Homo sapiens: one gene and its partners. The protein of the gene in region 3 purifies or fractionates together with the protein of the main gene of each other region. This does not show direct contact. Each region holds a gene or a part of one and is shown on either strand. Other genes may lie near its edges.

What was found.
Region 1: the proteins of AAK1 (region 3) and CAPZA1 purify together in Homo sapiens (affinity purification with mass spectrometry; one large-scale study listed by BioGRID and IntAct). This does not show direct contact.
Region 2: the proteins of AAK1 (region 3) and WNK2 purify together in Homo sapiens (affinity purification with mass spectrometry; one large-scale study listed by BioGRID and IntAct). This does not show direct contact.
Region 4: the proteins of AAK1 (region 3) and REPS2 purify together in Homo sapiens (affinity purification with mass spectrometry, with the first as the bait; one large-scale study listed by BioGRID). This does not show direct contact.
Region 5: the proteins of AAK1 (region 3) and PDHX purify together in Homo sapiens (affinity purification with mass spectrometry; one large-scale study listed by BioGRID and IntAct). This does not show direct contact.
Region 6: the proteins of AAK1 (region 3) and TPP2 purify together in Homo sapiens (affinity purification with mass spectrometry; one large-scale study listed by BioGRID and IntAct). This does not show direct contact.
Region 7: the proteins of AAK1 (region 3) and QSER1 purify together in Homo sapiens (affinity purification with mass spectrometry, with the first as the bait; one large-scale study listed by BioGRID). This does not show direct contact.

What each region holds. Positions count from the first base shown.
Region 1 is NC_000001.11:112,650,832-112,654,331, reverse strand, and holds part of CAPZA1 (F-actin-capping protein subunit alpha-1), read right to left. Parts: intron 1,745-3,500; exon of another isoform or gene 1,644-1,744; intron 735-1,643; coding exon 671-734; intron 1-670. UniProt on the Homo sapiens protein: F-actin-capping proteins bind in a Ca(2+)-independent manner to the fast growing ends of actin filaments (barbed end) thereby blocking the exchange of subunits at these ends.
Region 2 is NC_000009.12:93,316,639-93,320,138, reverse strand, and holds part of WNK2 (serine/threonine-protein kinase WNK2), read right to left. Parts: intron 2,620-3,500; coding exon 2,508-2,619; intron 2,267-2,507; coding exon of another isoform or gene 2,065-2,266; exon of another isoform or gene 931-2,064; intron 1-930. UniProt on the Homo sapiens protein: Serine/threonine-protein kinase component of the WNK2-SPAK/OSR1 kinase cascade, which plays an important role in the regulation of electrolyte homeostasis, cell signaling, survival, and proliferation.
Region 3 is NC_000002.12:69,458,740-69,462,239, forward strand, and holds part of AAK1 (AP2-associated protein kinase 1), read right to left. Parts: 3' UTR 2,973-3,500; coding exon of another isoform or gene 2,928-2,972; 3' UTR 1-2,927.
Region 4 is NC_000023.11:17,149,158-17,152,657, reverse strand, and holds part of REPS2 (ralBP1-associated Eps domain-containing protein 2), read right to left. Parts: 3' UTR 1-3,500. UniProt on the Homo sapiens protein: Involved in ligand-dependent receptor mediated endocytosis of the EGF and insulin receptors as part of the Ral signaling pathway. By controlling growth factor receptors endocytosis may regulate cell survival.
Region 5 is NC_000011.10:34,958,118-34,961,617, forward strand, and holds part of PDHX (pyruvate dehydrogenase protein X component, mitochondrial isoform 1 precursor), read left to right. Parts: intron 1-2,302; coding exon 2,303-2,401; intron 2,402-3,500.
Region 6 is NC_000013.11:102,603,486-102,606,985, reverse strand, and holds part of TPP2 (tripeptidyl-peptidase 2), read right to left. Parts: intron 2,194-3,500; coding exon 2,065-2,193; intron 1-2,064. UniProt on the Homo sapiens protein: Cytosolic tripeptidyl-peptidase that releases N-terminal tripeptides from polypeptides and is a component of the proteolytic cascade acting downstream of the 26S proteasome in the ubiquitin-proteasome pathway.
Region 7 is NC_000011.10:32,934,311-32,937,810, forward strand, and holds part of QSER1 (glutamine and serine-rich protein 1), read left to right. Parts: coding exon 1-1,125; coding exon of another isoform or gene 1,126-1,249; intron 1,250-3,500. UniProt on the Homo sapiens protein: Plays an essential role in the protection and maintenance of transcriptional and developmental programs.

The DNA of each region.
Region 1 (3,500 bases), on a different chromosome or scaffold from region 3:
AACCAAGTCCCGTATTATTAAGAATATTGTATTTATGAATAAGTCAACTTTAAACTACAAAATATCCCCCATACTAATAATATTCATTTCTTGGTTTCTAATATATACTTATACATAACTATATATGTACTTTATACATAGCTGTAATAACTTTTATGTACACTTTTGTATTTTTTTCACATATTTTTCCAGAGTCATTATGAAACTTTAGGGCCATTACACTTAGCATTTAAAATAGGTAATACATTCACATGGTTCAAAAATGAAAAAATACACAAAGTGAACTGTTTTCTCATCCCATTTCCCAACCACCAAAATCCTAAAGTAATAAATAAGTAGTCTAAATTTCAGGAGGAACGCCTCTGTTTTTCCATTAAATATAATGTCTGTTGTTACTCTTATCAAGGAGAATTAAAGACAGCTGGAAAACCTGTAAAACTTAAATACTTCCATTTTCACTGTTCTTGTTAAGAGGCTGCTCTCCTTTCTTGTCAAAGAAACTGCTAGTGTTATGAGAAAGAGAAGAATATCCTAACACGTACAGTACACACAAAAACTATAAAAACTAAGACAAATTTATTCAGCACCTGGTTCAGACATCTGCTTTGGTTTCCATTAATAGGATCTCTACTATCTGCCAGGCATAGCCTGTCTAAAAGGCAATTATTACCTGATCTTCATATCCTTCTATCTTCACAGGCGTGAACTGATCCATGTTATACTGGGCAAATGCACTGTTTTTTTTTAAAAGTTTTTTAAAAAAAAAAAAAAAAAGAGGGAGAGAGAAAAGAATTATGTGTAAATAAACACAAAAGGTGGTTCACAGAATAGTGAAAGGAAATGTGAAAATAGTACCCTGTACTTTTCCCTTCTCCCCAGACATCCAGTGTTAACATAATGCCTTCCAGCTTTCTGAAGGGACTCCTCTCTACGGAGATCTTGGAAGCTCCTTAAACTCTGAAATTACCTTTTCCTCTCTGCTCCTGAGCTCCAAAAGACCTTCTGCTTAGACAATTCCAAAGTTGGTTTGTTTTGAGATAGAGTCTCACTACGTTGCCAGGCTGGCCTCAAACTCCTGGGCTCAAGAGATCTTCCCATCTGTTTCCTGAGTAGCTGGGACTACAGGTGCACACCACCACACTCGGCTAATTCCAAAGTTTGAAGCAATCTAATTATTGTGAACTGCCAACAATTTTAATCATTTGGGCAGAAGCTTTCAGTAATTCAAAAGAATCCTCCATTGATACACTATTTTGGAAATGATCTTTTTTCTTGGCTCTCAAAGTCACGAGAAACTATAATTAAATGTCAGAAGGCATCTGACATGCGAAGAAGGTGAAGTGAGAGTTGAGCATGAGTCAAGTATAAAAGTAGAGCCTCAGGCACAAAGTAGTTATTTTTAAAAGAGGAATGCATAAATAATCAAAGTACATGCCTAATATTACTATTTGTCCAAAGCTTGATTTTTGAAATTCTGCATTTTTAATGGCTCTCTAATACATTTTACAAAGCTAAAGCAAAAGACAAGATAAAAGAAAGATGGAAATAAGAGCTACACTTATATTCTTAAAAAGTATCAGTCTTCTCACAGAATTCCCAATTTTAACCTATTAAAATAGACTGCTAGTTTTTTTTTTTCCCCATGTCAGACAGGTAATGTGCCAACATAACAAGGTTTGAGGGAGGCACATCTCACACATGCATGTGAAAACTCAACCATCACACTTATGAACTACAAAAGGATGGAGACCACTAGTTTTAAGCAGTGGTTAAAACTAGGCTTCTCAAGATAAAGCAAAGTAACAAACATTTAAACTTCTTCAAATATTTAAAGCTTTTTTTTTTTTTTTTTGAGATGGAGTTTAGCTCTTGTTGCCCAGGCTGGAGTGCAATGGTGTGATCTTGGCTCACCACAACCTCCACTTCCCGGGTTCAAGCGATTCTCCTGCCTCAGCCTCCAGAGTAGCTGGGATTACCATGTGCCACCATGCCCAGCTAATTTCTGTATATTTAGTAGAGACTGGGTTTCTCTATGTTGGTCAGGCTAGTCTCGAACTTCCAACCTCAGGTGATCCGCCCACCTCAGCCTCCCAAAGTGCTGGGATTACAGGCATGAACCACCGTGCCCAGCCTCTAAAGCTAATTTTCAATCTTATTTTGTTAAAAGTTGTTACTGTATACTTTGTGTATTTATTTTTTTGGGGGGTGGGGGTGATGCAGTCTCACTCTGTTGCCCAGGCTAGAGTGCTGTGGTACGATCTTGGCTTACCGCAACCTCTGCCTTCCGGATTCAAGTGATTCTCCTGCCTCAGCCTCCCAAGTAACTGGGATTACAGATGCGCACCACCACACCCAGCTAATTTCTGTATTTTCTTTAGAGATCGGGGGGAGTCTCACCATGTTGGCCAGGCTGGTCTCGAACTCCTGACCTCAGGTGATCCACCCACTTTGGCCTCCCAAAGTGCTGGGATTACAGGTGTGAGCCACCACACCCAGCCAAAAGTTATTACTGTGTTTTACTCCTTAAAACACCACATCCCCATGTAGCAAAATTAATCCCAAACACATTAGCTCTTCAGAAAGGATACAATTTATTCATAAAAAGTAGAATAAATGTTAGTTTAAAAAAAAACGAGTAGGAAGTAAATATTTTATTCTAGTATATGTCCTAAGACTATAGATTACCAACACCAACACCAAAATGTCCTTACCTTTAATTCCATCTCAAGTAAACAGCATCTCCATTTTACCAGCTGCCTAAGCCAAAAACTTGGGGTGATCTTTGATTCTTCTCTTTTTCTCACACTTCACATCCAGTCCATCAGTAAATCTTGTAGGCTCTACTTAAGTACATATTCAGAATCTGACTTCTTCCCACCACCCCCACTGCTACCACTCTAGTCCAACCAGTAGCATCTATCCCTGAACTATTCTCATTGTCTTGGAATTACTCATCTTACCTCAGCTTTTGCCCCTCTACACAGGAGCTAGTGATTATTCTAAAATATAAGTCTCATTATGTTATTCTCTACTCAAAACAATCTTACTTCCTATCTCTGTCAGAATGAAATTCACTCTTTAACATAACTTACAACACCCTATTTATTCCAGAAGCGCTGGAATTATCTGGGGATGGTTCTGGTGGCCAGAAACTGGTGGAAATCCAGGAAAGATGGTAAATCTTAGCTACTTCAAGCCCTTCATTTTATACAGACTGAAGGCAATAATTATGACAATGATTATGAAAACATTAATTGAGCAGTTACTATGAGGACTATGGCCAAGGGACTGAAATGCTTTAATACAGAAATAAAACTGAATTTTTCTTCTCTATGGAAAATCAAATATTTGGGTCCAGGAAAATTCTCTTAACAAGAGGGTTCCCCAAGAACCTATAGTCTATAAGAACCAGAATAGTTATAAATACAAAGCTTTAGTGTCAGTGCAATTAAAGAAAATGAAGTATCTGAACTACATACCAACTTCTCTTAATCTTAGCC
Region 2 (3,500 bases), on a different chromosome or scaffold from region 3:
AAACCCAAACAGACGCTCTGCTCCTGTACCGTCTGGAGCATCTGGGGAGTGAGCTGCCCTCCAACACCCAAAACAGGAGGCTCTGGGATGAGTGTTCCTCCTCCCTCCATGCAGAAGCTCGAAGGCTGGCACTGCAGCTCTCTGAGGAGGTGGCCCCACAGCCAAGGCAGCCCCCACAGTGGACCGGGCAGGAGACACTGGGACCCTCAGCTTGCTCACAGTGAGGCCTGCAATGCACACGCAGGAGGGACCACAGTCAGCTCGAGGCTGTCTTTAGTGGGATGCTGGGGGGCTGGCTGCCACCATGCGCTGAGTCCCACAGGATGAGGCCCCACCCTGGATGGCCACCTTCCCTAAGGCCCCTGTGCCTACCAGAAAAGCCACTGCCCCTTGCATGATCCATGGGCAACCCCAGCCCCAAGTCCTCCTCTCAACAAGTCCAAGCTCATCTGAGGAGCTCCCACTTCCCCTGAGCTCGGCCCATCTGGAGCAAAGAGGGTGGCCCCAGGGGCTGCAGCAAGTAATGCAAACCAAGCCTCCTGGAGACAGGGGCTGCAGGTGTGTCTCGCTGACCAGGAGGCTGGCTCCCTCCATCATGGTCACAGCCCGTGGCACTGCTAAGTGTAATCAGGTGCAGAGTGGTGGGCAGCCCAGCCAGCTAACCCGACCAGCAGAGCTGACCGTGCTCGGGGCCCAGGCCACAGCTGGCGGGGGCAGTGTTGGGGGCCAGGCAGCCCTGCCAGATGCCCTGCTCTCAGACCCCTGCCGGGGACAGCCCAGCCCAGCACCCGCAGCCCCTCAGCACCCTCCTCCAGAGGTGTGGATGCAGCTGAGCCCAGAACTGGCTCCCAACTCCTGTGCTCCCTAGGAGGCTGGTTGCTTTGGATTTTATATGGATAGAGGGTAAGAAAAAGATGTTGTTTCACACTGTTTTCGAGCAAAAGTGTTTATTTTTCTCCTTCAGATATACAATCTATTGGGGATTCCGTGCCACTGACCACCATGTACAAGGAAGGGATTCACAGGCAAGGGGGACAGGTGAGGGCAGCCCCCACTTCACTCAAGGAACAGGGCAAGGGGGCCCAGTACAGAGAACAGAAATCTCTTACGACAGCATCGTGCCCTGGCAGAAGATTCTGCATAATCACCTAGAAAATTCAATTCTAACTGAATTGATGGAATAATAGATTTGAACCAAAATAATTTACCCAGTTCTAATAAGTACAGAAACTATACAATTCACAGCTGGGCAGTCCCAAGCAGTCTGCTTTCCAGTGGGAGGTGGAGGAGGCTGGGGCCTTCCCCTCCCACCAAGGGCTGTGTTGTGCCCACTGGGGACGAGTCCCACTGAAATCTCCAGGAGAAGAATGACCCCGCCCTCCGCAGAGCAGGCTTAGGGCTGGACGGGAGAGCGGTCTGCATGCCAGGGGTGAGCAGAGCCACAGGTCTCCATGGAAATCATGGAGAAGGGAGGGAAGTGGGCAGGAGAGAGGGCAGCCTCTCCAGCTGGAGGAGCTGCACTTGTCTCCACAGGGTGGGCGGGCAGCCAGGGTTTCTATGCCCAACACACACCTTATCCTCACTCACAGCAGCCCACTGGCATGGGGGGCATGTCTGCTCACCTAACGTTTTCTGGCGGATTTCTCATGGCCCAGCGCAACAACTGACATTCCCTACTGAGCAAGCAGCTCCGCCAGTGTGCCCTGCCCCAGCGTCCCGCCGTCTCTCAGCCCCTGGATGAGCCCAGGGAACCGGCACTCTACTGAGGACAAAGCAGGGCTCACCTAGCAATGGAAGCTCTTCAATACTTAAGGTAGCTAATTCAATGTTTGTAAAAGGCATTTACAACAGAAAACCAAAGATTGAACTTCAGCTTCAGATTTGTAAACCATTCACATCTCTGCAACTTAAAACAGTAAATAAAGATTATCAATGCACAAGCCAATTGCAAATGAAACCTTTTCCGATAATTTTTTTTAACATATCTTTTCATCAGGGAACGGAAAAGCTGGCATTCAAGGCACTGTACTTCTGCAGGGTGACGACAAGGTTCTAACCATCAACTCAAGTATAGGAAGTGGGTGTGGAGACGGCGCGTGGACCACAGGAACCTAGGAGCGAACAGGGTCTGAAGCCGCAAAGGAAGCAGTCTTGCTGCCCACCCGCTGTCCCCCTCGCGGCTGAGTGCTGTGCCCACAGCAGGCGGTGGGGGGGACTCGGAGGCCAAACCACACCTGGTTTCTCCGGGCGGTTCCGAGGGCGCCATCTGGCAAGGGACAGGGCAGAAGGCTACGTGATCCGCAGCCGGGGGCCAGGCATGCTGACCACAGGTGGCTGCAAGAAGACTGGCAGCACGGGCACCTGGGGGGTGTTCCAGCTGCCCTGTGCCCCCAGCTGGCCCACCTGGCCTGCCCAGGGCCCCCAGGACACTGGAGCTGGGAGCAGGCCTCTGTACTGACCCAGAGGCAGCGCACAGGGTGGGGTTGGGAGGTTGGAGAGGGCAGTACCTGGTGTGGGCACGGACAGGGTCGGGGCGGCTCCGGGAATGACCGTGGTGGACAGAGGGCCGGGCGCTGGGGGCAGACGTGGCATCCCCACTCCTGCTCGAGGTGCGGTCATCTACAAAACACAGAGACGAGAAGAGGAAGGTACACGTGGCTGCAATCAGCTGGCCTCCCTTAGTGGCCCCCAGGGTGCCACAGTTTCTCCATCCTCAGGAGGCAGCAGTCCTGGAACCTGCTGTGACAGGCACCCTCTCAGGGCTGACACCAGAATGATGGTGTGGGGCCAGGAACCATCACCCTCCCTTGTTTGCTTCCCCAAGCTGCAGCCTGATAGCCTCTAGGCCACACACCTGGGTGTCCACCAGCCAAAATGGGACTTGGAGGAGGACTAGTGGGGCCTGGACCCTGAGGGCGCATGAGTGACCCCACATGCCTCTACTCAGCCACCACAAAGCCCTCCTGCTTGGCTGGTCAGTGCCCTCACAGGAGCATGAACCACCCAGGAGCTGGCAGGAGCAGAGCCCCAGGACCTGGGCAAAGCAAGTGTGCAGGGAGGTGATGGCAAGGCAGCCCTTCCACTGTCCCAGCCCGGGGAGAAGCTGTATGCGGGGTGTGCCCCAGGAAGGCAAGGCTGCTGGCCACGGGGAGTCACTCCTCTCCACTCCAGGGAGGGCCCCACTGGGCACTCTTCACAGGTGCATGGAGGGCACTCGGTGACTTCCACAACCCTTCCTGGAAATCAAGCTCGGCAGTCAGGGGCTGGAGGGGCCTCCTTATCTGGAAGGTCCTCTATGGAACCGACAGCTGAGCCCCTGCCCACGACAAAATGCCCAATACCTCCCCAAGGTGCCTCCATGCTTCCAGTCGACACCACGGGGATCTCCAGGCGGGGAGGAAAAGGAGTCAACCGCACAGACTGGACAGAGAGAAGGAGAACTGGCCTCATGCAGATGACAAGACTGTGTATGCAGAAAACCCACAAGAATGGACAAACCA
Region 3 (3,500 bases):
TCAAATAGGAATCTCTGGTAGACTCAAAGAGTACAGCTGATTTGCCATTTCAGAGTGAAAAGGCTGCACTGTCTCACCCTGCCCCCAAAGTCTAACCTATCCTATTTTAACTGGTATTGGTAAAAACTATTTTTGCAATTCCTTGCCGAAAGGAATCAAACGGATCCCTTTAACATGTACATATAGTTCCATTATAATGCAATGCAGGTAACACTAACTTGATTTCAAGAACATTGTCAAAACTGGGGTACACATCCTTCTATTAGAAATGGCTGGGGGACAGCTGAGAATAAATTTATGGAATTACAAATTATGGGAATACTGGACTAAGTCAAGAATGGTTACCATGTAGCCATTTTTACCAGCTATTCTAGAGTCCCTTCACACATAAACTTGACCCTGCATTCCGGGAAAAGTACCTCTGGGTTGTCACTACAGAGTAAGGCTGGGGTCCTGCCAACCTTCCTTCATCCTTTCTTCTAGTTCATAATAGGGAAGGTGAGCCATTTCATTCATTCATGTTTTGTTTGTTTTGTTTTTTTGAGACAGGGTCTGGCTCTATTGCCTGGGCTGGAGTGCAGTGACACGATCTTGGCTTAGTGCAACCTCTGCCTCCCGTGCTCAAGCCATCCTCCCACCTAAGCCTCCCAAGTAGCTGGGACTACAGGTGTGCACCACCATGCCTGGCTAATTTTTGTATTTTTTGTAGAGACAAGGTTTTGCCATGTTGCCCAGGTTGGTCTTGAACTCATGAGCTCAAGCGATCGGCCCAACACAGCCTCCCAGAGTGCTGGGATTCCAAGTGTGAGCCACCACACCCCGCCCATTTCATTCTTATTTGGTGAGATTGTCACAGACTTGGCTGAAACTTAACAAGAAACTGTTTACAGCAACAAAGGAAGCAATTAAAGTTAACATGATCATTCAACTGTGCCATTCATCATGCACTTATTGACATGCTCAAAATAGGGGAATGTTAAGTAAGGAAATGAAGTGGGAACAGGAACAAGGGAGCTAAGCCAAGAGGACTTCCAGGGACTTGAACAAAAACAATTCCCAACCACATACTACTTTTCAAGCATTTTGAAACTCTTCTTTTCCTTTAGTGATGTTTTCAGTAACAAACTTGCAAGTGTTCTTGGTGGTTAAAAAACAAAACAAAACTACAAGTATCAGCTGAGAAAGACAAAGAAAAAACTAAGAATTTAAATTAGATAATTCCATTTAAAGTTTCCAATTCCTCGTTTAGGTGGAGTTGGAACATTAGAACTCAGGGGTGGTTTGGATATTAACAAGGTACTCCTGCCTCCTCAGAAGCTACAGTCTTTTCTGCAGCTCTCTTATGTACCTCTCATCAAAATAATTTCAGTCCCACATTTCTCGGATAAAACCACATCTGTGGTTTTATCCAGCAACCATTTCACAGTCGACTGGCACGTGTTCTCCAATTTCAGTTCCAAACACACAACACAGAATCACACTTTTCTTTATTAAAGGGACCCAAGTGATTTTTAAGCTGTATTCTTCCTGCTAGAGAATGAATTGAGTAGCATCCTTCTCTAATTTCCTACAATAAAATTTCCTATGTGATATACTGCATATATATTATATCTGATATATGTTTTGATTATTTTTCTTTATGGAAGCAAATACAGAATTTCCTTGTCAGATCACTCTGATGATTATAATCTGCTACTTTGATTATGCATCAGTGAAATGTCCACCAAGCAGTTGAAAACACTGATGTACATGTATTCTAAAACTTACTAAATAATGGGCCAGTAAGATACCAGTATCTTTCTAGAACGTTTAGAAAGAGATCTTAGTTGCCAGAGAAAACTCAGATACAACATGAGCCTCTAAACACATACACTCTAGTCTACAAATATGAGACTTTTCAACTCAACAATAAGTGGGCCGAAAACAATATAGGGCGTATGACCTAGACTCCCTGGGTGCTGCTCAGCAGCTGCTTCAGCATCAAATTGTGTTCATCCCATTTTCTAATCTAACCAAGCACTTGGAACTAAAGGGCTGTATGTGAGCCCAAGAAACTGATATATTAAATATTTTTCACCACATATGACATCTTTCATTCAGTACTGCCTGTTAGTCAATTACTGTGGATTCTTTCAGGGTTCATCAATGCATGTGTGGCTCGATGGTTTAGGAATAAATATATTCTGGCTCAATGCTTTCCACTGAAATGAAAGGTCACAACTTCTATGTTCCCTATCAAATGTGTAAAGCAAAAACACAACAAACGAAAACAAGAAAGTAGAGTTGTTTGTTGATTATATACAGTCATGTGCTGCATAAAAACGATTCCATCAATGATGGACCACATATACCATGATGGTCCCATAAGATTATACCATATTTTTACTGTACCTTTTCTATGTCTAAAATGTTTGGATACAGAAATACTTACCATTGTGTTACAACTGCCTACAGTATTCAGTACAGTAACATGCTGTACAGGTTTGTAGCCCAGGAGCAACAGGCTGGACCATATAGCCTAGGTAGGTAGTAGGCCGTGCCATCTAGGTTTGTGTTAAGTACACTCTGTGATGTTCACACAATGACAAAATCACCTAAGGATGCATTTCTCTGAATGTCTCCCTCATCATTAAGTGGGGCATGACTGTATTTTTTTTTCTCTTTAAGGAAATAAGACCCTACTGTAATACAAGTCGGCAGAATCTAACTGTTACTAATAATTAATGTAATCCACAAGTCAAAGTTTTTTCATGCATCACCAAAAAAAAAAAAAAAAGTAATTTGCATGTGTTTGCATCCGTTTCTGTATTCAAAGAAGGTATGTAGAGTCTCCACCCATCATGTCTCCAGTGACAATTTTTTTTTTTTTTTTGAGGCGGAGTTTTGCTCTTCTCGCCCAGGCTGGAGTGCAATGACACAATCTTGGCTCACTGCAAAGTCTGCCTCCCTGGGTCAAGCAATTCTGCCTCAGCCTCCCTAGTAACTGGGACTACAGGTGCGTGCCATCACGCCCAGCTACTTTTTGTATTTTTGGTAGAGACAGGGTTTCACCATGTTGGCCAGGCTGGTCTCAAACTCCTACCCTCAAGTGATCCACCCACCTCGGCCTCCCAAAGTGCTGGGATTACAAGCGTGAGCCACCGCGCCTGGCCTCCAGTGAAAAATTTAAAAAGGATACAAGCTCATACTTGACGAAGTATTCAACTATGTAGTAAAATCACCATGATTTTATCCTGATTTGCACCTTGAGAATTAAAATAGTCACTTGATTAGAAGGGAATTATCAAATAACCAAAGGAAAAACATTTTGCTGGGCTGTTACAGAGATAATCCTGAATATTTGGAAAGGGGAATTAGAATGATCTCTTACTTTAAGAATTTCTGAACCAAACACCGCATGTTCTCACTCATAGGTGGGAATTGAACAAAGAGAACACATGGACACAGTAAGGGGAACATCACACTCTGGGGACTGTTGTGGGGTGGGGGGAGGGGGGCGG
Region 4 (3,500 bases), on a different chromosome or scaffold from region 3:
CAGCCCCAGAGAAGAGCTCCCTGAAAGAGCTTTAGGATCTGGCCCTGTTGTTCAACAGAGGGCTTCAGGATGGAACTGGTATCTGAAGGTTTCTTTACTGTAGTTTCCAAATTCCAATTTAAGCACTTTTAAAGTCTGGTGTCTGCTGGTCTTCAGAGTCATAAACCCACTTCTCTAATATCCCACAGCCATGACATTAGCTTACAGCAAGACCAGAGTATTCACAAAACATGAAAAAATGAGCATTTCCCAATTGTTGACAGCAGAGCAAGGCTTCTGTAACTAGAACATGTCCTGTGTATTGAAACCCTGCAATGCCTCCTAGAAAAGGTTCCTTTATCATCATGTGTGTTGGCATGTGTAGAAAATAACTATACAAGCCTAAAAGCAACTGTGTACTTCAGATGTCTTGCTCATACTAACAGACTGACTGCTTTAGGGCATGCATGTAACACAGCCTCCAAAAGCCTTTTTTAGAAGAGGGCAACAGCTCTTCGAATCTGCTTGCGTTGCTTTTAAAGTCTGGCCCTCCATGTCTGCTGCTCTCGGGAAATTCACATAACCAGATGCATTTCTCCTTACAAACAAGCGAAGCAGGGTGGCTCACAGAGTAATACCCACATTCAAATTGCCATCAATGACTGACCTATCAGTGTTGGTAGGATCTCCCCTAGCTTGTGCTGAAGGAGGAACAAGACATGTGAGCTGAGGACTCCAAAAACACAAATCCCCACTTCTTACTAGGAAATTGAACCATACTGAGTCATGATACAAAAAAAAAAAAAGTAACAAAACACCCATAACTAAAGTATAAATTCAACTGATCCTTTGAAATCAGAGTTTTAAAAGAATACCCTTGAAACAGTAAAGCAGTTAGAAAGAAAAACCAGAATTACTAGTGTTCTCTTTAAACACAGTGGGAAAACACCTCTTAACTACTATTTCATTTTGTTCACATTCAGAATGTTCAAACCAGAACCTAATGATCCCTACTTGTCAATAATATGGGAAGCTCTGGTTGCCATGATACGTTATATTGTTTTCTTTTTATTTTTAAAACCACATTCCCTTGGTGATATCTAGTGAGAAGGTGTGATTCTAGTTTGTGTTGAACAAATGTTTTTAGCTCTAAGGTGTTACACTGTAATTGAGATGTTTCCAACTACTGCTTAAAAGAAGACATTGGCAAATGCCTGCCTTAATTGCAAAAAACACATGAATTCCAATATTACCTTATTGATCTTCTGAGTACACATCTATTATTACCATGGCTGTGAGATCATTTAAGAAACAGACAAATGTCATTTAGAAACAGACTATAGAATCAAATCACAACTAAAGAGAATGCTTTATGATAGCTCAGACAGTGGTAGGAAATCAAAGGCAAATTCACATTTTTGATTACTCACCCTAAAATATGCTGAAATTGAACATTTGTGACCCAAGTAACTAAAAATACATTGAAGAAAACTATAACTTAACTACATATTGAGTTCATTTCAATCGCAGTAGTCTATTTTAAAAACAACCTCCCATAAGGAATACAGGAATGGAATCCATTGAAAGCAACAGCTGTCAAAAACTCTGCCAAGAAACTCAGAGTAACTTATTGCATCATAAAAGGTGAGGTGTTCAGGAAAACAAATAGCTCAATCATATTCTTTTCTTTCAGATTCTGTCACTTCAATCTAAGAGAAATTTCTAGAACTAAACTCCCTAAAACATGTTTTCAAATTTAAAGACTAATTAAGTCAATGAAATTCAACATGATAAACAGAAAAAAAAACCCTCCTAATCTATTTTTAGTATTGATAGAGGGTAGAGAATCTAACTCAAAATCCATAAAATCAGGTTGGCGCCCCAAATCTGCCACTAGTTACCTCTTTCTATGGATTTTTTGGGCCAGGAACTGTTGTTTCTTAGGGCTTTGGTTTCCCCACATGCAAACTGCAAATGATGGGTACCAGTCCTGCCCAGCTCTGACATCCTATTCTCCAGTGACAGTAAGATGGGCACAGCTTCCAGCTAAGCTGCCTCCTCTCCCAATCATGCCCAAGCACTTGTTTAATATTTGTAAAGCAGTTAGATCCTTCCAATTAAGGCAAATATCTGCCTCAATTACAACATATACATTCATTCCAGATATCTACCTTTTAGTTTTGCTTTGATGTCTGCTGGATAGGAAAGTGGCAAAAGCAATATGCCACATACGAGAGATGCCGAGGGACCAAATAAGCCAGCTGTCAGCTACTACTGTGCTTTCATCTGTGGGACTGTAGGATCCCAATGGGGGAAGACCACTTAACAGCAAGGTAATTCAACCCCTATGGATGGGGACAACATTGACCTTCTGTCTATAGAATTCTCCCCAACAGGCAGGTCTAACTTTGGAGTCGTTTTATGGAAGAGGTATAATGGTGATTTCAGTAATTCGGCCATCTTATAAATCACATTAAAGGCTCACAGAAATATTATTAGGCGTTACAATCCTAAATTAAAGTGCACATCCTAAGAAAACACAGAAAGAGAGGATGAGCACTACTTAGGTAATAATAATAGTAGTGTGTCATTACTTGTGTGTTATGCACACACATTTAACTGTTTTTTAAAAATCCACTTCTAAGCAACTAATAAACTGTGGTTACAGTTGAGTCCACCCAAGAAGGTAGGCATAGATATTATTAGTGTGTGCTCGCCTATCTTAAAATATTGATGAGATTATGAAACTCAGGGGAATTTGATTGTCCAATGCAAGTTTTTTCCCTTAATGAAAACCAAGCCAACCAAACAAAACCCCAACCTCCCAATCTGGCTCACTCTGGCACTGACTTCATGGAGGGGAGGGGAAAAGCATGTCAATATTTTTAAAATGAATACTGCAGACTAACATTCCTTAGTTTATACGTCTGCCTAATGGAAATGAACTGCTATCCCAACTGAGAGCATATGTACTGGAAGATTATGAGATAAAGTGCACATGCTAGTCTTTCCTGGATTGAATTTACCAAAAGCCAAACATGCTGTGAAACGTCTGCAATCAGAACAGTGCTGATAGCCGGGCGGGTGGCTCACGCCTGTAATCCCAGCACTTCGAGAGGCCAAGGCGGGTGGATCACTTGAGGTCAGGAATTCGAGACTAGCCTAGCCAACATGACAAAATCCCATCTCTACTAAAAATACAAAAATTAGCTGAGCGTGGTGGTGGGTGCCTGTAATCCCAGCTACTCGGGAGGCTGAGGCACAAGAATTGCTTGAACCCAGGAGGTGGAGGTTGCAGTGAGCCGAGATTGCGCCACTGCGCTCCAGCCTGGGCGACAGAGCAAGTCTCCATCTCAAAAAAACAAAAAACACTGCTGATAAAATTTGTTGTAGCCCGTAGATCTCAGAACATGGAAAAAGCAGTTGCCTAAAAATTTGTGCTGACCCATTCATAATCTTCGGAAGAGTTTAAACTTACTCCCAACCCTTCCCCCACAAAAACAAAAAAGGCAGCAAATGGG
Region 5 (3,500 bases), on a different chromosome or scaffold from region 3:
TGCTTTAATAGAAGAACTCTGTAAATTCTAACATTTCATTTATTTAGTATTCTATATAATTATACAACATTACTTTTTCTTTACGAGAAAAAGATCTTCATAAAGTAGACCTCTTCATTCTTAAACATTTTTTCCTTTAGTTTATCATTGTCAGAAAAGAATCCACAGTGCTTTTTTTAGGGGGGGGCGTGCGGAGGTGGGTGACGGAGTTTTGATCTCATTGTCCAGGCTGGAGTGCAATGGTGCAATCTCAGCTTACCGCAACCTCGGTCTTCTGGGTTCAAGCGATTCTCCTGCCTCAGCCTCCTGAGTAGCTGGAATTACAGGCATGTGCCACCATGCCTGGCTAATTTTTTTGTATTTTTGGTAGAGATGGAGTTTCTCCATGTTGGCCAGGCTGGTCTCGAACTCCTGACTTCATGATCCGCCTGCCTCGGCCTCCCAAAGTGCTGGGATTACAGGCGTGAGCCACTGCGCCTGGCCTGCTTTTTGAAGTACTGATTTTAAATTCCTAGTGCAGTGTTTCTGACTCTGTTGCCTTGACTCCCATTTACTGTCTCCTCTTTCATTTACCCTAAAAATTGGAAGACAGTCTCACTGATGCTTTCTAACTAATGGTCTTCTGCCCTTGCAAAGATAATAATAGTATGTACCCTAATTAAGATCAGTCATCATCAGAGACTCGCATGAATCAGGCCCCACTGTGTAGGTTAAAAACCTACTGACCTGTGAACTCTGCATACTGTTGGGCACACAGTGAATGAAAAAAAAATTTTTTTTTGGTTGGTTGGTTACTAATCCTATATAAAAATCTAAAATTTCAGATTCTCTTGAAAAATCTAAAGATTTAGTAACATTGGGCCCATATCAGAGTTATTTAATACTTCCCTGAAATGCAGCAAGTTCCACAGTTGTTTCTGTCTCTTAGCTTTAATTTCTAGATCCAGCCTGTTTTAATCTGTACTAATCAGGCTTATTTTCTTTATCTGACCATGTAGTAATTTGTTTACTACTTTGCATACAAGAGATATACCATTAGTCATGTAATCTGAGGTATCCTATATATATAATAAATATATATAATTGTGTATACATACAATTCAACCTCAGCAAAACAACCCAATTAAAAAACAGGTGAAGAACTTTAATAGCATTTCTCCCAAGAAGATACATAGATGGCCAGCAGGCACATGAAAAATATGTTCACCGTCACTAACCATTAGGGAAATGAAAATCAAAACCACAATGAGACACCCCTTCATACCCTTCAGGATGGCTAGTATCAAAACAAACAAACAAACAAAAACCAAACCAGACCCAGATTATAACAAGTGTTGGCAAGGACATGGATAATTTGGAACCCTTGTTGTTGCCTAGTGGAAGTGTAAAATGCTGCAGCTACTGTGGAAAACAGTATGGCAGTTTCTTAGAAAATTAAAATTACCATATCATCTAGTAGGTCCACTTCCAGATATATATGCAAAATAACTGAAAGCAAAGACTGGAAAGAGATATTTGTACATCTATGTTCATAGCAACATTATTCACAGTAGCAAAATGGTAGAAACAACTCATAAGTCCAAAATGCTATGAAATGTGATTCAGCTTTTTAGGAAGGAAATTCTGATAAATGCTGCATGGATAAACCTTGAGAATATTATGCTCAGTAAAATAAGCCAGTCACAAAACAAATAACTGTATGATTCTACTTATGTGAGTTACCTAGAGTAGTCAAATTGACAGAGACAAAGAGAATGGTTACCAGGGGTTGGGAGGAAGGAGGAATGGAGAGTTACTGTTTAATAGATACAGAGTTTCAATTTGGAAAGATGAACATTTCTGGAGATAGATGGTGGTGATGGTTGCACAATAGTGTGATTGTACTAAATGCCACTCAGTTGTACACCTAAAAATGCTTAAAATGATAAATTTTAGGTATCATTTGCCACAATACAAAATATATGAAGAAATGATAGAACAAAATATACGAAGGAAACAATTGGTAGTTGTGATGAGCACCCATGTGAAAGTAATTAGTTGAAATAGCAGCTCTTTCCCCTAATTAATATTTATTCTTATTAAAATCATATTTAGAAATAGTAACTAAATTTTTACGAAAGTGTTTAAAGAATAAAATAAACCAAATTGGTACAGATTATTTGACTGTGACCATCTGTGGGAGTCATTTTAGCTTTATTATAAGATTTTTTTTTAATTATTTGCGAAACTGTTGACATTTAGATCTATTTGAATCAAATGTAAGTGTTAATTGGTTCTATTAACCTTCATATTTTTTTCTTAGGTTCCGTTTAAGTCCAGCTGCCCGCAATATTCTGGAAAAACACTCACTGGATGCTAGCCAGGGCACAGCCACTGGCCCTCGGGGGATATTCACTAAAGAGTATGTGTTTGCTTTTTGTAATAACCAGTTCCATTATTTATTATGATCATGTTTTTTTGAAAGAAAATAAAAAGAGCTTATTCAGTCTTAAGATTTAAAAGGAGGTACACTGTTCTTCTTTTGTACTTTTAATTGCTTTTATCATTGTAAATTGTATTCTATGCAAGAGTTGTTTTCTGAATAATTATAGCATTACTGAAGAACAGCTCTAATTTGGTAACTAAGCAAGATCCTTAGAAGTGGTAATAAATGCAGAAAATTAGAGCGTAGAACAGTGAAACTTTATACAGTATTAAATATGTGAAATCATGCAATAACATTTACATTTCTAAAACAAGGAAATATATTTTTAAAAAATTATTTTCATTATCCCTTTGAATTTTATTCACTTGTGCTGTTATAAAGCAATTTCCATATACAGTTTGGTCTCTTTTTAGATTTTCTTTTCTATTTCACTGATCCATCTGTCCATGAGTTAGTACCATACTTTTTTAGTACCACACTTTTAATTAGAAATGTTTTATTGTATGCTTTAAAATCTGATAACAATAGCTTTGCTCTTTTTTTAAATCAGTTTTCTTAGTTCATTCTTATTTTATTATTCTTCCAAATGAATTTTAAGCAGTTCGTCTAGCTCCATGGGTAGGAGTGAGGGGTATTTTTATGGGATTGTATCACATTTTAAATTAACTTTGTGAGAACTGACATCTTTATCATGATGGGTCTTTCTGTTCTGCAACACTGGTTTAAATGTTTGTGTCTTTCCATTAGTTTAAATGTTTGTGTCTTTCAAAACAGATGGCCCCTGTTCTGTTGAAACTTAGTCTAGTAGGGTAGACAAAGATTAATCAAATAGGCTTATGAACTAATGTAAGATTTCAGTAGTGTTATGTGCTACATTTTTATTGGCAGTAATAGTAAATGTTTCAAATTGAGTTTATGTTTTAAAGCAATGTACTCATTCCATATTTATCTAATATTGATAGGAAATAAAAAATAATATTGGCCAGAATTTTTGTAAGTCGAGAGAGAGCAATGGTTGTTAAATTATAAGTGGCAGTGTTGGGCCAGGCAATGTTTTCTTTTTTCCACTGGGTTA
Region 6 (3,500 bases), on a different chromosome or scaffold from region 3:
CTGAGGGGACACATACTCATAACCTCATCTAACCCTAAATACCTCCCAAAGGCCCAACTTTCAAATACCAACACAAAGAGGGATAGGGCTTCAATGTATGAATTTTGGCAGGGGGTGGGGACACAGATAATCAGTTCCTAACACACAGAAAAGGAAGTAGAACCTGGATTATTAATGGCTGCTATCTGCCCATGACAGGCAGATTTCTAAGAAGACCCACGTCCCTCCCCTAAGTGAAGGCAGGACCCGTGAATATAATGAGATGTCACTCCCATGATTGCGTTATGGTACGTAAAGAAGGTGTAGGGATTTTGCAGACGCAATTAAGGACTCTGAGCAAATCAAAAGTGACATGATTCTCAGCGGGCCTGAACTAATCAGGTGAGTTCTTTAAAAGAAAGACTGGGGTCATCACCAAGGTCAGAGATTCTCTTACTGGCCTTGAAGAAGCAAGCTATCATGAGTTTTACAGCTGCAATGAAATGAATTTTTCCAACAATCATGTAAACTTGGAAAAGAAGCCTGAGCCTCAGCTGAGCCTTTAATCTTGACTGCAGTCTTGTGAGACCCTGAGCAGAGACCCACAAAAAGCCATGCCTGGACTCCTACCCCATGGAATCAGTGATATAATAAATACAGGAATACACAAGGTTTTAGGCGGCTAAGTCTGTGGTGCTTTATTACACGGCACAGAAAGCCAATATGCTGCCACAACAAGCTTACTTAAAAGACAAGACCTAAGAACAATTCAGATAGATGGCAAAAGGTGGGAAAAGCTAACTAAATAACCATAATTTTATGTTCCAAACTAATGCTGCTTAAGAGTACAGGATCACAAATTCTTGCCATCCATCCTTCATGCTCCTTAGCTCATGAGCTCCTCTGTGCTTGCTTTATAATTATTTTTTACGTTTAGCTTACCCAGGCCTTTCTACCAAGGACATAGAATAAGACAAAGCTGGTAGGCCGAGTGCCCTGGCTCACGCCTATAATCCCAGCACTTTGGGAGGCTGAGACAGGCGGATCACAAGGTCAAGAGTTCGAGACCAGCCTAGCCAAAATGGTGAAACCCTGTCTCTACTAATCATACAAAAATTAGCTGGACGTGGTGGCGGGCACCTGTAATCCCAGCTAATTGGGAGGCTGAGGCAGGAGAATTGCTAGAACCCGGGAGGCGGAGGTTGCAGTGAGCCAAGATTGCACCACTGCACTCTAGCCTGAGCAACGGAGCAAGACTCTATGTCTCGAAAAAAAAAAGAAAAAAAGAAGTTTAAAAAAAAAAAAAAGACAAAGCTGGCCATTTAAGTTAACAGCTACTATAGCCTAAGTATTTCTTCATGGTCAAGTTAACTGGGAATACTATGAAGGGACAGTAAAACATGAAGGCAAAGCTATGATGTGGTTACTTTCTCTATCTTTGTATTCAAAACATAAAATTTGGCAAGCTCACTGAAAAATACCGCCCAATTCTAATTACCTCATCAAACAACAAAATAATGGCTTCTTCTAAGACAGCTCCAATGATTCATTTCTTGTGAAATCCCTTCCCCTTAAGTGTGTGCTAGATTTATTAACTCACTTCCAATGAGCTCAATATAGTCAAGTGATAGGTGGTCCCTTAGAAGGTCACTTTTATAAAAAGCCTGTGGCTTTCATCGTGGGGACTCTCTCGGCTCACTCCCCCAGGGAAGGTGCTGCCAGGTACTGCAGCACTGCGGAGAGGCCCAATGGCAAGGAGCCAAGGCCTGCCAGTGACCCACCAGTAGGCTTGGAAACAAACTTCCCCTTCTTCTCCCAAGCTGAGCCTTCAGCTGAAGTCACAGCCATGGCTAACCATTTGCAACCTCCAGGGCGACTGGAACCCCGTTAAGCCACACCCAGATTCCTGACTCACAGAAACTCCGAGGTAATAAATATTTGTCATTTTAAACCAGGATGTTCTGAGGTAATCTGATATGTGGCAATGGATAACTAATACCACCACCAAATGTAAGGTAAAAACATTAGATGCTTTGAGGCAAGAGTAAAAAAAAAAAAATTCAAAAAGAAGACAAAAGGTCTCACCTTAAGCACTCTTCCTGAAAGGCCAACAATCTCACCATCCTTTGGCTCTACTTCTGTAGCAGTATTCACATCGCCACTTCCTGTTGTATCAATGATATCAACGATTTTTGGTTTTCCATCAGTTGTAACCTGAAAATTAAGAAAATTAAAATATGAATGGTAGATTTTAGGTTTTTATTCCTAAACAATGCAAATCCACATATATATGTGTGTGTATATACAAAATCTACATTCACTTAAAAAAGAGAACTGAACTGTTTTAAGCCAAAAGCCTGAACAAATACTAGTAAGAAAATTTAATCGTGGAAACACTACAGAATCCTTCAAGTCGTTTCATATATTCAATAAACAAATATTTACTGAGCATTTACTATAGACCACACCCTATTTTAGGTGCTGGGGATATGGCAGTGATCCATACGCAAAAATCCCTGACGATCTTATAGCGAGAAAGCAGTTCAGTTAATAACAAAGTAAAATAAAGAACATGTCAGATGTGCTATCACACTGGGTATTAGGGAAAAAAAAGAACATGTCAGATGGTGAAAATTAACTATGGAGAAAAATTAAGCAGGGAAGGGAGATGGTCAGTGTGGGGTTTTCAACATAAGTTTGGCTGGTCAAGGAAGGCCTTGCTGAGATGGTAACATTTGAGAAAAGATCTAAAGATGGTGAGCTGTGGGCTGGACAAGTTTAGAGCTTTAGGGGGAAAAAATGTTTAGTAGTAATGGTACCATTTAATGGCACCATTATTGGATGCCACACTAGCACCTCAAACGCAACAAAGTTCAAGCTTAACATGCCCCCCACCACCTGATTTTCTCCAGGCTTTGCCATCCCAGGAATCCCCACGCCCAGCTGTTCACACTGGAAACTTAACAATCCTCCTCTGATTCTTTACTTCAGTTGACTCCTCACAGCGAAGCTAACAGGAAATCCTGTTAATTCTTTGTCTAGAAGAGAGCTCAAATCCATTGCATTTTCACTACCACTATCCTAACTTTCCAAACCACCACCATCTCTTGCCTCCATGAGGTGAATTACCTAAGTGGTCCCTCAGTTTCCACTCTTGGCCCCATCAAAAGTAATACAGGCTGAGTGACCCTAACCTGAAAATTCCAAATGCTCCAAAATCATGGACATGAAGTTCAAAGGACATGTTCATTGGAGACTTTCGAATTTGCGATACTCAACCTGTATTAAAACAAGCTGTATTTTATCAGTCCTCTCCTTTAAGCCCATCAATGTATTCATGGAGCACTCAGAATACTCGCATAAAAAGCCTCGCACCATCTGACCCCTGCCACCCCGTTACTCAGGAGTCTAACCACGCCAACCTCCTTTCAATTCCTGAAACATGCCAAACTTTTTCCTGCCTCATGACTTTTTAAACAGGTTCCTTCTGCCTAGAATTCTTTATCTCTTCAGTTGTTCCA
Region 7 (3,500 bases), on a different chromosome or scaffold from region 3:
ATTTTCAGCAGTCATTAGATGTCAGGCATGTGACTTCAGATTTTAACTCTATGACAGCTACAGTAGGAAAGCCACAGAATATAAATGATACTTCCTTAAATGGAAATCAGGTTACTGTGAACCTTTCACCAGTACCTGCCCTTCAGTCAAAAATGACTCTTGATCAACAGCACATTGAAACACCTGGTCAAAATATACCAACTAAAGTAACTTCAGCAGTGGTTGGACCAAGTCATGAAGTCCAGGAGCAAAGTTCTGGCCCATTCAAGAAACAGTCTGCTACCAATCTTGAATCTGAAGAAGACAGTGAAGCTCCTGTTGATAGTACATTAAATAATAACAGAAACCAAGAGTTTGTTTCTAGTAGTAGAAGTATAAGTGGAGAGAATGCTACATCAGAGAGTGAATTTACCTTAGGGGGTGACGACAGTGGTGTGTCAATGAACCCAGCTAGGAGTGCACTTGCACTGTTGGCCATGGCCCAATCTGGGGATGCAGTCAGTGTCAAGATTGAAGAAGAAAACCAAGATTTAATGCATTTTAACCTTCAAAAGAAAAGAGCTAAAGGAAAAGGGCAAGTTAAAGAGGAAGACAACAGTAATCAGAAACAGCTGAAAAGACCTGCCCAAGGCAAACGCCAGAATCCAAGGGGAACAGATATTTACTTACCGTATACTCCTCCTTCCTCAGAAAGCTGCCATGATGGTTATCAGCATCAAGAAAAAATGAGACAGAAGATCAAAGAGGTGGAGGAAAAACAACCAGAAGTCAAAACAGGATTTATTGCTTCTTTCTTAGATTTTCTGAAATCCGGGCCCAAGCAGCAGTTTTCCACTCTTGCTGTACGAATGCCTAACAGGACTAGACGGCCAGGGACCCAGATGGTTCGTACATTTTGTCCCCCACCACTTCCCAAGCCTTCATCTACAACACCCACACCTTTAGTGTCTGAAACTGGCGGTAACAGTCCATCAGATAAAGTTGATAATGAACTTAAAAACTTGGAACATTTATCTTCATTTTCTTCTGATGAAGATGATCCTGGATATAGTCAAGATGCTTATAAAAGCGTCTCTACTCCCTTAACTACTTTGGATGCTACTTCTGATAAAAAGAAGAAAACAGGTAAAGTTTTACAATTTAGATTCATAATTATTACTTTCTTCTATTTTTCCAGCTATAGCCCACATTTTAAGCTTTTTTCACTTAAAGCAGGTCTGCAAGTACATTTTCAGGACAAAATGTATAGGTAGGTATCTTAAGGACTTATTTTTTAAATTTTTCTTGCCTATAGGAAAGGTCTATGTTTTAGGTTAAGTAGTTCTGCTTTTTCTTGGCTTTTTGCCAAAGGCAGCATAATCTGTACAGTATGCCATCTAATCTGAGACATCTTGAGGTAATTGAGGCACTGTATTGTGGGCATTGCTGTAGTATAAACCTGGTACATTTTCTTAGTTTGCCAATTTTATCTGAAGATTAACATTTTATTATTAAATATGGTTATGTTTAAATATGTTGCAATAGTCCAGGTGACAAATGATAGCTTTTTTCAGATGAGGCAACAGGGATGTTATAGAGTTAAAATCTGAACCATTAAATGTGGTTATGTGCAGCATGCACACTAATATAATTAAGATAAAACTTAAAAATTTTATGCTGGCTTCAGATTATATACCCAAATCTTTGGGTATGTGTTTCACTTTACTCTGTGGCTAAGGGAGCTTTAGAGGAAATTTTTTTTTTTATACTTTAAGTTTTAGGGTACATGTGCACAACGTGCAGGTTAGTTACATATGTATACATGTGCCATGTTGGTGGGCTGCACCCATAACTCGTTATTTAACATTAGGTATATCTCCTAATGCTGTCCCTCCCCCCTCCCTCCAGCCCACAACAGGCCCTGGTGTGTGATGTTCCCCTTCCTGTGCCCATGTGTTCTCATTGTTCAATTCCCACCTGAGTGAGAACACGTGGTGTTTGGTTTTTTGTCCTTGCAATAGTTTGCTGAGAATCATGGTTTCCAGCTTCATCCATGTCCCTACAAAGGACATGAACTCATCCTTTTTTATGGCTGCATAGTATTCCATGGTGTATATGTGCCACATTTTCTTAATCCAGTCTATCATTGTTGGACATTTGGCATATTTTAAGAAGCAATGACTTATGTAAACAATTGGCAGTAAGTATGGTATTTTCTATTGTAAGAAACATGCCAAGGAAAAATTTATTTGTAACAATAATATAACTACCACCTCTGTGCCAGGAACTAGTAGCAATGTTGTGAGATACACATTGTTATCTCCAATATACAGATGATATAACTGAGAATAAATGAATTATGTGGGCCCATACCTCTAGTAAGTGACAGAGCTGGAATCTGAACCCAGGTTTTTCTGGTTCTAGAGCCTACATTCTTTCTCAGCTCTTTAGGATAAATAGGGTGGTGCTTTAAGACTTAAACCTTGTTTTGTAACATACTTCCCAGCTTCTCTCTGGACTTGACTACCTTTAACTACTAAAGTGTTACGAGACAGCTGGTATCCAAATAACCTGTTAGCATAAATATCTGATAATACATTTCTAAAGAATTCTCATTTCATTACACAGGGAAATTAACATGATAGAAAGTCAGTCTCAGATTCAAAGACATTACTACCATGGATGTGTCTAATCCTAATATGGTTTTATAACGTCTCACCCAGTTCAGAGTGCTTTGCAATCGCTATTATATTCCCTCTTACATTCCCAGAATGAACCTTTTGAAATCTCTGTTCTAAAACATGAGTCTAAAACTAGTTTCTTCCAGAGATATGTTATCTCATTTTTAGTTAAAATCATCATCATAAACCCGATCCTTACTATTAGGTCTTTGAAGTTGTCTTATCACCATCCCTGTTGCCTCATCTGAAAAAAGCTATCATTTGTCACTTGGACTATTGCAACTGATTACTCATTACAGACTTTTCTTTTTTTTCTTTTTTTATTATTTTAAGAGACAGAGTCTTGCTCTGTCACCCAGGCTGGAGTACAGTGGTGTGATCTTGGCACATTGAAACCTCAAACTCCTGGGCCCAGGCAATCTTCCTTCCTCAGCCTCCTGAGCAACTGGGACTATAGGCACATGCCACCATGCCTGGCTAATTTTTTTTTAATCTGTTGTAGAGATGGGATCTTGCTGTATTGCCCAGGCTGGTCTTGAACTCCTGGCCTCGAGCAGTCCTCCCACCTTGGCCTCCCAAAGTGCTGGGATTATAGGCATGAGCCACTGCGCCTGGCCTAGAATTTTTTCTCGCCAGTCTCTATGCCAGTCCATCCTCCACATTGTCAACAGATTCAACTTTATAAAAAAGGAAAGCTGATTGTTACTTCTATTTCAAAACACCTCTGTGCTTCATGGGAAAAATAAAGATTATATGTAAAAATTCCTTTTTCCATGTTTTACTCTCTTTCCACTGTCCCTCTGCTGTGACAATTGAATTTTTCATTGTTTCTTGGATGTC